3 linked regions of the Homo sapiens genome follow. The protein of the gene in region 1 interacts with the protein of each later gene in a biochemical or structural test. Each region holds a gene or a part of one and is shown in the gene's direction. Other genes may lie near its edges.

Region 1 (3,733 bases):
TTTCTGCACATGGTAATTGCTTGACCACATTTAAAATATACTCATGCCAGCTTCTCCTATAGGGATTCTTACACAACTGGTCTTATGCAGACTTTCTTAAGTACTAGTATATTTTTCAGTGCTTTCTATGTGTTCTTTTGTCCAGTCAGAGTTGAGAATCATTAATAAAAGATTAAGGACGTGGTTGTGTTTCTGTGTATTATTATCCTATTTCTTTGTCATGGCTCAATTCAGACCAGTTTAATAAACTCACACTTTTGTTGGTATAATTTCAGGGATGTCATGGACTCTTAGTTGATGTTTTTTATGAGTGTATCAAGTTTTAGCAGTATACAGTGACAGTCTTCTTGAAAATAGTTCTCATTAAAAAGTCTTTTCTTGGCAAGGCACATTGTGAATGGGGAAATTTGAAAATTTGAGCAGGGAATTTGGAAAACATTAGTTGAGACAATGAGATATATACTGCAGAGAAATCTAAAGAAATCACGTTTGCAGAAATATCTTCACAGAAATTGGTGGCCTCTTCAGATTTTCAATAGACAACAATATATTAGGTTTGAGCAAAAGTAATTCCGTTTTTGACATTTCTTTGAACGGTAAAAAGCAAAACCGCAATTATTTTTGCACCAGCCGATACTAGTAGTTACTGTCGGATATATTGCTGCATGTTATTGTCAGTGAAAAGTAATGTCTTCTATTGTTCTAACGTCAGCCAGTAGATAATGATTACTGATAACTAGTGGAGCAACTAGGTAATAGCTGGCAAAGAGCTGACTTTTAGAGTACTGAGATCTTTGTTGGGAAAATGAATTTTAGGAGGTGTCCACATGATGGGAACTTACTCAAGTTGGGTTGGAGAATTGAGGAATTGAGTGTGTGTCTTACATGATAGATGTTAATGAAGGTGAAAGGAGGAGGAGTGTTTGTTTAGTGGGGAGAGGGGCAGATACAGGAGTTTTTTGCTGGTTTGGAAAATGTTAGGTCAATTTGGACCTGGGAAATAGGTTGGGTATGACCTGGTGGAATAACAACTTAGAAAAATGGTATTAATATCTTCTAAGAAGTCATTCTGAAGATTCATTATCATAAGGTTTAGATTTTTATTTTAAATGGTAACAGCGATACTTCATTGACTATGTTAAATTGTTTAATCAAAGAAGATGGGAAATTGGCTCTGAGTGAAAGCTCTGGGTCTTCATATGTAAATCGGAGTAAAAATCACTGTCCCCCCCCCCCCTTTTTTTTTTTTTTTTTGAGATGGAGTCTTTTCTGGCACTCAGGCTGGAGTGCAGTGGGTTGGTCTTGGCTTACTGCAACCTCTGCCTCCTGGGTTCAGGCGACTCTCCTGCTTCAGTCTCCCAGGTAGCTGGGATTACAGGTGTGCACCACCACACACAACTAATTTTTGTATTTTCAGTAGAGACAGTGTTTGTCCACGTTGGCCAGGCCGGTTTTGACCTCTTGACCTCAGGTGGTCCACCCGCCTGGGCTCAAGGGATCTCCCTGCCTTGGCCACGCAAAGTGCTGAGATGACATGTGTGAACCACTACGCCTGGCCCTCTTTTTAATATTCATTTGAAGGCGCTGGTTTTGTTTTGCGAAAGGTGTTGTAATAAAAGTGAATTTTTATCACAATGTTGGGAATGCACAAGTATTCAAAGCTGTAGTTGTTGAATTAAGCGAGATTGGGAAGTACTCTAAAAATAGATCTTTAAGTCCTTAGGTAGGCTGGCATATACATGAAATTGATGTTCGTCAACAGCTACCCTGGTACTATTCTTTCTTTCTTTTTTTTTTTTTTTTTTCTTTTGGAAACGAGTCTCGTGCTGTCTCCCGGGCTGGAGTGCAGTGGTGCAGATCTCGGTTCACTGCAACCTCCGCCTCCCAGGTTCTCGAGATTCTCCTGCCTCAGCCTCCTGAGTAGCTAGGATTACAGGTGCACACCACCACACCCAGCTGATTTTTTGTATTTTTAGTAGACATGGGGTTTCAGTATGTTGGCCAGACTGGTCTCAAACTCCTCACCTGACTTCATGATCCATCCACCTTGGCCTCCCAAAGTGCTGGGATTACAGGTATGAGCCACTGCACCTGGCCCAACCTGGCACTATTCTTATAATTCTTTAAAAAATTCTCATAAAAGTCTTGATCTATATGTGTTTTCTGATTTGTGCCACAAATACTGCAGTGTTTTCATACTAAAACTATATCTAGATATAAACTAGATATATTTTCTTCAGATTGTAATAAATTGGAACCCCACTTTCCCTTATAATTGATCACCCATGAAATTGTTCTCAAATTAGATAATGGTGATATTGCAGAACTAATAAAAACCACGGAGTGGCACCCTTTTAAATGGTGAATTTTATGGTATGTGAATGACGTTTTGATTGAAAATGGATGCGACATTACAATTGAAAAAGGATACATCACTGTCTTATGGACAGTCATTCTTTTTTGTCATATCTCGTGGACCCTACCTACATCAGGATACTTGCCAGTTAGAGACATAGATGAAACCCGTCTGGTGCTACCAGCCTCAAAAGGTAACTCTTACGCCTGAGGATGGACACCTTTTAGAATTAAAAGAACTCTCAGTCATTGTGGGACATCTTGCTAGCCTTCATAGAGACTGATTTACTGTCAGCTCTTTTCTTGAGTCGTCTCATCTCTCTCTGTTTTTTTTTTTCCTTTTTTTGAGACAGAGTCTTGCTCTATTGCCCAGGCTGGAGTGCAGTGGCTCGATCTCGGCTCACTGCAACCTCCACCTCCCAGGTTCAAGTAATTCTTGTGCATCATCGGCCTCCCAATTAGCTGGGGTTACAGGTGCCTGCCACCATGCGTGGCTAATTTTTTTTTTTTTGTATTGTTAGTAGAGACGGGGTTTCACCATGTTGGCCAGACTGGTCTCAAACTCCTGACCTCAGGTGATCTGCCCACCTCGCCCTCCCAAAGTGCTGGGATTACAGATGTGAGCCATCGTTCCTGGCCTCTTTAATTCTTATTTGGAGAACTTTGGGCAACACGAAATAGAAACTGCCAATAAATGGCAGGTTTGATAACAGGCTTTATTATGACAGCGGAGACTTGGTGAGCAAGAAACCTGGTTCAAAAAGACTGGTTTAGTTCAATGGTCTTTCTGAGGACTTTTTAAACTTAGCACATTTTGTATGTGGTGCATGACTAGTAATACAGTATATAAGTAACGAGTATGAAATTCTTAGAGGTTTTCAGAGTGCTGTTATTACTCCATGGCTAAATATATTAATATGTCAGTGCATTAGAAATAGACAAATCTTCAAGAACTCACAGGTCAAAGATGACACATGTAACAAAGATTGAGTTGTGAGGGGCCTTGATGTGTTTGAGGAGCAGCCAGCTGTAAAGTAAATTGTAAAGAATGTTAGTTGTAAAGGGCTTTGTATTACATGTTCTGGGATTGTGTCCTATAGATGGTATTTTAGAAACAGGCCTGTGGCTAGAGGAAAAAAGATGTGTTAAATGGTAAACATTGTAAATGTTGGAATGGAGAGGAGGTTGGGAGAATTTCTGAAGTAGATTGGTCTTGATGTGATTGGTTGGACTAAAGGTATGAAAGTAGGTGCTTGTAGGAAAATAATAGTCAAAAGCTGAGATTTTGTCTTCGTGACTAGATGATAGATTATGCCATTAATGGTTACATGAAGGGGGGTTTCACAGAGTTTGTGCTGTCAGAATTTCAAGGAGACAA
Region 2 (3,733 bases), on another chromosome or scaffold:
AAAAAAAATCCTAAATGTTCTTCAGGGAAGTAACATACCTAGATATTGAGAGCAGTGTAACACTAAAAAAATGAACAGTTCCAGTAGGTGGATATCTGGGCCCAATATGGGGAAAAGGGCACTGATTTCTCAAAAGTTAAAAGCAAGCAGGCCAGGCAATGTGGCTCACACCTTGAATCCTAGCACTTTGGGAGGCCAGGGTGGGAGGGTCCCTTGTTATTAATAGTTGGTCTTGAAAGAGCGGTGTCAGGAAAAGAGGTTTATTTTATCAGAAAATGTTGAAGATTAAGAGATTTGGTATGATGGGGAAGAGAGAATATAAAAGGAAAAATATACTTGGTCATAATTTATGATAAATATGTGGCCATTAGAGCATCAGAGCATTTTTTTCTTTCTGATTCTGAAGAGAGCAGCTATAAAGTTCTTTGTTAAGCCAGTTTCATTGCAAATAAAAGTAGAATCATAGCCATAAAGACTGCAACCCACAGTCGACAGTCCTACCTGAGCTGCTGGCAACAACATTGTGATCTAGTCTGGATTTAACTGTCTTTGTGTATTTCAGCGTGGGAGATGCTATCTGTACCATTGCTGCTGCTACCTGCTTTCCAGAGCCTTTCATCAATGAAGGAAAGCGGCTGGGCTATATCCATCGAAATTTTGCTGGAAACAGATTTTCTGATCACGTAGCCCTTTTATCAGTATTCCAAGCCTGGGATGATGCTAGGTATGAGTAAGATTTGGGTGAGCTGTCTGTAGTTTCTCATTTGTATTTAGTTCTCTGGTCTTAGAGAATGATTTCTCATGCCAATTTATTTTAGAATGGGTGGAGAAGAAGCAGAGATACGTTTTTGTGAGCACAAAAGACTTAATATGGCTACACTAAGAATGACTTGGGAAGCCAAAGTTCAGCTCAAAGAGATTTTGATTAATTCTGGGTTTCCAGAAGGTAAGACTTCTTCCATTCTTAAGATATCTTTAAAGTGACATTTATATAGTACATGCAAATTGACAGCAAAGTGTATTTTAGTTTCAAATTTTAGACCCTATGATTTTTATATATTCCCGACTATTTCTTAGTTCTCGTGAACACTGGTCTAGTTCCCAGAATGAGTACTTTGCTGATAACCTTATAGTGGTTTGCAAAGTAATTTATTAGCATTTAGACTTGAAGTAAATTCTACCACATTAAATTTTAAATGACTTTAATTTATACTTTCGGTGTACAGATGATTAAAGGACTTTATGACATCTAACATAGAAAAAAACCAACCCATGTTTCTTGATGAGCTGTAGTACTTTTCTTTTCCAACTAGGTTAAAATATAGAATTACTTCCTAAAACATTGAGAACTGGAATGCATAACCAGAAATAAGACTGTTGAGAGACAGAAGGTAGTTGGGCAAGATGGTAAATTTTTAAAGGCTGTAATTGGAATAACTAAACAAAGTAGTGAGTGGTTCTCTTCTGTCATAAGCCAGCCGAAATTTTAGTTTTTCCTCAAAATTATAAGAAAGGGAAAACTTCATGTGCTAGAATCTTGAGATGAATTTTACAGGTAATGAAACAGGCACCAAGGTATAAATTGTCTTTAATTCATCCAATTAGGAGGCTATAAGACTAGAACTCGTTTGTCTAGAACAAAATATGTCTGTGCTTTCAGCGGTTGACTGTCATGCTTTCCAGTCAGTAGCTAAGTACTCAAAGTGTAGACTGGGTAAAAACGTCAGCCTTCATTCCAGTAGGTGTCCTCTTAGATTATCTCCATCTTCTCTACAACTAACAGCTATTTAAGAGTAGCAGATAAATACTTTGTGGTCCTATCAGTCAAGCTCTTATTCTCAGAGTAGATGGTTGATTGGGGGACTTTAAAAAGTAATCACCCCGGCCGGGCGCAGTGGCTCACACCTGTAATCCCAGCGCTTTGGGAGGCCGAGTCAGGTGGATCACGAGGTCAGGAGATCGAGACCATCCTGGCTAACACGGTGAAACCCGTCTCTACTAAAACTACAAAAAATTAGCCGGGCGTGGTGGCGGGTGCCTGTAGTCCCAGCTACTTGGGAGGCTGAGGCAGGAGAATGGCATGAACCCGGGAGGCAGAGCTTGCAGTGAGCAGAGATGGCGCCACTGCACTCCAGCCTGGGCGACAGAGCGAGACTCGTCTCAAAAAAAAAAAAAAAAAGTAATCACCCCAAGCTTATTTATGGTTGAGTCTATAAGAGAATAGAGACGTTTTCGTTTTCTTATTGTGGAAACTCAGTAACATTACTCCTTGAACTTAATCTGGGTGTAAGGATTCTGAGAAGAGAAAGTTTTACAGACAGGTTATGTGAAAAGAGTGAGGAAGAGTCAGTTCTCTGAATTATCTTAAATAGTTTGCATGTAATGTGAAGATCAGCCAGTTATCTGATTTTTGTTTTCACTGTGCTCCTCTTAACAGATTGTTTGTTGACACAAGTGTTTACTAACACTGGACCAGATAATAATTTGGATGTTGTTATCTCCCTCCTGGCCTTTGGTGTGTACCCCAATGTATGCTATCATAAGGAAAAGAGGAAGATTCTCACCACTGAAGGGCGTAATGCACTTATCCACAAATCATCTGTTAATTGTCCTTTTAGTAGCCAAGACATGAAGTACCCATCTCCCTTCTTTGTATTTGGTGAAAAGGTAAGAAAAGACTAGAAAAGTTTACATTGAAAGTTGAAATTGTCTTTACAATCATTAGGAACATGAATTTTGATTTTCAAAGCACAGTATATAGCGGTATTTGGAAGTTGGAATGTCAACCATTTTGTATTGTCTCTTTCTCCATTTGCAGATTCGAACTCGAGCCATCTCTGCTAAAGGCATGACTTTAGTCACCCCCCTGCAGTTGCTTCTCTTTGCCTCCAAGAAAGTCCAATCTGATGGGCAGATTGTGCTTGTAGATGACTGGTATGGATTTTCAGATGTGAACTCCAAACTGAATTCTTAGAATTACAATATGATGGAATTCAGCTGCTAATCTAACTTAATTATATACTAATTATATCTAACTTAATTATATACTATATACTTAATCTTAAATTGATACCAGTAGAAGCAAATGCATTAGGAATTTGAGCCATGTCTACCACTAGGCACACCACCACTATGGAATCAGAATCTAAGTGAAGCTTGAGTACCCTTTCACATACTCTGTATATTGATTCAAAACTAGTGGTAAGCACTGGGCAAAAATGGAATAGAGCTTAATGGACAGCCAGTAGGCTCAGCCATCATATTCTTGAAAACCTAGAAAATGCCAGTATTCTGGGTCTCTTAAATTCATTATTTTAAAGTCTGGATGATCTGGCTGGGTGCGGCACATCACTTGGGCTCAGGAAGTTCAAGATCAGCCTGGACAACATGGTGAAACCTGTCTCTACGAAAAATCCAAAAAAATTAGCCCCGTGTGGTAGCGCACACCTGTAGTCCCAGCTATTCTGGAGGCTGAGGCAGGAGAATCACTTGAACCTGGGAGTTGGAGGTTGCAATGAGCTATCACGCCACTGCACTCCAGCGAGGGCAACAGAGCAAGACTCTGTCTCAAAAAAAAAGAAAGTCTGAATGATCCATATTGCTGGACTTTGTTTTTTGTTTATTATATATTGCATATATTTTTATTATATTTTATTTGGCTTGATAGACTTTTTGGCTTAAGACTCCTGCTCATAGCTAGCAGTGAATTTTAAGAAGCTAGTGCTGATTATAA
Region 3 (3,500 bases), on another chromosome or scaffold:
CTTTGTGTATTTGTTACTTACATATCTGGTCTATCTCTCTAAGCACTTATCAGCCTACTTACATATATGCTGTATCTCTCTAAACACTTAATCACCCTTTAGATATGGTTACTACATTGTGTTACATAATGTCTGTAGAATACAGCAAATTCTGAGAAAATAATTGCTTTTTGATTTGGATCTTATGATGACATCTATTTCATGGGAAGTCTTCAGAAAGAAGTATGGACCAGTGAATTTAACTTAATCCAGTATATCCAAAATACCATGCAACATCTAATTTGTGTAAAATAATTGAGACGTTTCATATTATTCCTTTCATACGTTCAAAATCCAGTTTGTATTTTACGGTTATGGCATACCTCCACTTGGACTAGCTGCATTTCAAGTGCTTAATAGCCACATGTGGTTAGTGGCTACCTTATTGGAACAGCCCATGTACAGAGTATAGCATTTAGGGAGAGGTAATTGTAGCATATTATGATCTAACAGTTTATTTGATTAGAAATGATGAAGAATACAGAGTCCTAGAGTTTAGTTTAATTTGATCTCTAACTTTGTGTATGACCTTGGGGAAAATCGCTTAGTCTTATGGTTCTTTCATCTGTAAAACTAGAGGTACTTGACATCTGCTTCATGAGTGTTGTGAAGATTAATAGGTAATGTTAGGAAGATGCCTGGCAATTCTCTGAGCGTTTTATCACCTTCAGCTTTTCTTTTTGGGGGAGGGAAGGGATTTAACAAGATTCAGTATAATTGATTCTCTTACTCCCTTATTTTCAGTGGCTGTTTTTTCTCTCTGCTTGTATAACTTGTTACATTGAACAAGTAATAGGGAAAGGTTTTAATACAGAGACATGTAGCTGCTCATTGAAGGGCAGTTTAGGCACACCAAATTAGTGATCCTTTTAAAGTTGTAATTTCTGAGTGTTAGAGTTGAAAGTTATTCATAGATTTCAATCTGATATTTGTTCCTACCTCTCTCTACCATTCTGACTCCTCTAAAATGTGGTCATGTTAAGTTTCTTGAAACACAAACGCACCAAAGAAGGCATATGTTCAGTATCCATTTAAAATAATTATCAGGAACTATCAGATGATATTCACCATGGCGTGGCTGCTTCTTACAGTGTTGTAGAAGATCCCCAGTCTTAGTTTGAGAATAGTAACCATAGAAAAGAGGGTATATACAGTGCAACACAGGAAATGGGTAGTGACCAAACTTGAAATAAAAAACTTGTCAGGATAAAGTAAATTAAGCTCATATAATTTATGTTTTTTAAAGTAGAGGGGAATTTTCTTGTAGATTTCCTAATAAACCTGCATACTTTTTATGAAAGTTCTGAGTGTCTAGGTTCAAATAGAGCATAAAATATAACTAGATCTTTTAAAAACACAACTTTAAGAAAACAACTTACCCTAAATATAAAAGAATATTAAAATGCTACATAATTAGAAACTTGTGATTATCCACACAAACATAAAATATGAAGTCAGCTTGAACTTTAAAAAAAGGTGCTTGGTTGGCAAGAGTTTAATAAATTGATCAGCTGTTTTGTTGTTTTGAAAGAGCCTCAGTGATTTGTTAAAGTGTACAGAGTGAAAAGCATTGTTAAGGTATTAAGTCTTGTTAACTTTTAGAGACTGATCTCTCTCACCACAAATCTTGGAACATATTTACTATACTTAAAATAACTACTGTCTAATTTTTCACATAATAGTCCAAGCATGTGACAATATGAAATATCTGATAGAAATATAGTTAGGAATTAAATGACTGTTTCTGTACTTCTTGCCAACTTTCCTGGTTTACAAGGTAGCCAGTTTGAGAATTGCTTCATTGATAGTTTTCCTGGAGATACCAAGATGCCCTTATTTTTCGTAGTCACTAAGTATGTCAAATGAATGTACAAGATTGGGAAGAATTGTAGGAGTGATTTAGATTTCAAAGAATGAAGCTACTTTAGAAAAAAAAATGCAAAGGTAGTTTTTAAACATTGATTTCTAATACCTGATAGTGGTTGTGGGTCCTTAAAATATTTTTAAATGTTTTCTGGAGTAGCATTCATCTATTTGAGGCCTATAATGATGAATGAAACAAGAGCATGTCATCAGATTTAACCTTGATCTCTGATTTTGGTACTTACTCGCTGATTTAGTTTTGGAACAGAAAAGAGGAATATGACTGAAGGGAACTTTCTGAGCACCTACTGTATATGCTTTTAACTGTATTCACATTTCTCTCAATCTTATACATATTGAATTTATTTTAAAGAAGAAATTTTAAAGAAGAAACTCTTGTGCTTTTGATTTAATAAGATAACATTTAAGGGAATGATTTTAATTCAGGTGTGTCAGAGTCTGTTCTTTTTGTACTTTACCATATTTCCTCCATTTGACTTCTTTCAGCCTTAATGCCAGTCTCAAATTTGATGAAAAGGTTCTATGTGAAAGCACTGAGCATAGTCCACGGGGTATAATAGGTATTCAGTAAATGTTTTCTTTTTTTCTCAGAGGGTTTTTGGAAATTGTGGGTCACTTGTAGACTTTCAAACACTAGAAAACACAGTTTGTTTTCTGTGCTTTTCATTTAGGTTTGGTAAAAGACAGGGTTGGAGTTCTTCCTTTTTCTGTGGTTAATATGAGAACTGTATATTGATATCTATAAAATAAGGACATTTTTCAAAACCAAAAATACATAATGAGAAGAATGGCCATGTTGAACCTTTTTTTCGGGTCTTAATGTTTGGCTTAAGACAGCTGAATTCTCATCTGTTTCTGCATTCAGTCTTTTGTGATACACTGTTTTGGTCGAAGTGTGTGAAGAATGTCCACCTTCACACAGACAGACAGTTGAAAAAGGAAAGTATGTTATGTTTTCATAGGCTTTTCAGGATAATTATGGAGATTAAGTGATACTACACCGTAATTCTGCAAGAGGTAGTTTCTTAAAGATAGTTGCAATGTAGAATCTGAAGCCACATGAGTGAACTTTTCTTACACTGTTACATTAAAATCTATTGGTCTGTCTTGCACTTCAGATGTAACATTTACCCATCTTTTACTGATGCTTTTTGTAATACCATGCATTGGATTATTTGGAAAACATTATGTCACTGAGTTATGCACGTCTTCCAAATGCTAACATATTTTATTCAATAAAAAATTCATGATTGTTAACCACACAATTCAGAAAAATCTTAAGTATTGAGAATCTGTCAGGTTCACAGAAGTGGATACAAGTTTTCTAAAATTCTAACTTTCTCTGGGAAGCTCAATTTTTTTTTCTTTTTTTACCATGCCTCTGGGACAAGTTCAGAGGAAGCTGAAATTTTATCATTAGCAATAAATGCTATAAATGGTTATCGTTGAAGCCATAGACTCACTTTGCTCATTTTTGTGAAAACATCTTCCAACCATTAAGTCTGAATAACCATAATTTGTCTGTCAGTCGTTTTTTCAAGTAAAAATAGTGTTCCATGAAAAAAGTGGCTAGGTCA

Evidence for each region.
Region 2: the proteins of HNRNPC (region 1) and DHX9 form a complex in vitro, tested with the Homo sapiens proteins (one study listed by BioGRID).
Region 3: the proteins of HNRNPC (region 1) and KPNA4 interact in a test that uses a peptide from one of them, tested with the Homo sapiens proteins (one study listed by BioGRID).

What each region holds. Positions count from the first base shown.
Region 1 is NC_000014.9:21,224,400-21,228,132, reverse strand, and holds part of HNRNPC (heterogeneous nuclear ribonucleoproteins C1/C2), read left to right. Parts: intron 1-3,733. UniProt on the Homo sapiens protein: Binds pre-mRNA and nucleates the assembly of 40S hnRNP particles. Interacts with poly-U tracts in the 3'-UTR or 5'-UTR of mRNA and modulates the stability and the level of translation of bound mRNA molecules. Single HNRNPC tetramers bind 230-240 nucleotides.
Region 2 is NC_000001.11:182,880,702-182,884,434, forward strand, and holds part of DHX9 (ATP-dependent RNA helicase A), read left to right. Parts: intron 1-562; coding exon 563-724; intron 725-818; coding exon 819-946; intron 947-2,437; coding exon 2,438-2,667; intron 2,668-2,818; coding exon 2,819-2,934; intron 2,935-3,733. UniProt on the Homo sapiens protein: Multifunctional ATP-dependent nucleic acid helicase that unwinds DNA and RNA in a 3' to 5' direction and that plays important roles in many processes, such as DNA replication, transcriptional activation, post-transcriptional RNA regulation, mRNA translation and RNA-mediated gene silencing.
Region 3 is NC_000003.12:160,559,072-160,562,571, reverse strand, and holds part of KPNA4 (importin subunit alpha-3), read left to right. Parts: intron 1-3,500. UniProt on the Homo sapiens protein: Functions in nuclear protein import as an adapter protein for nuclear receptor KPNB1. Binds specifically and directly to substrates containing either a simple or bipartite NLS motif.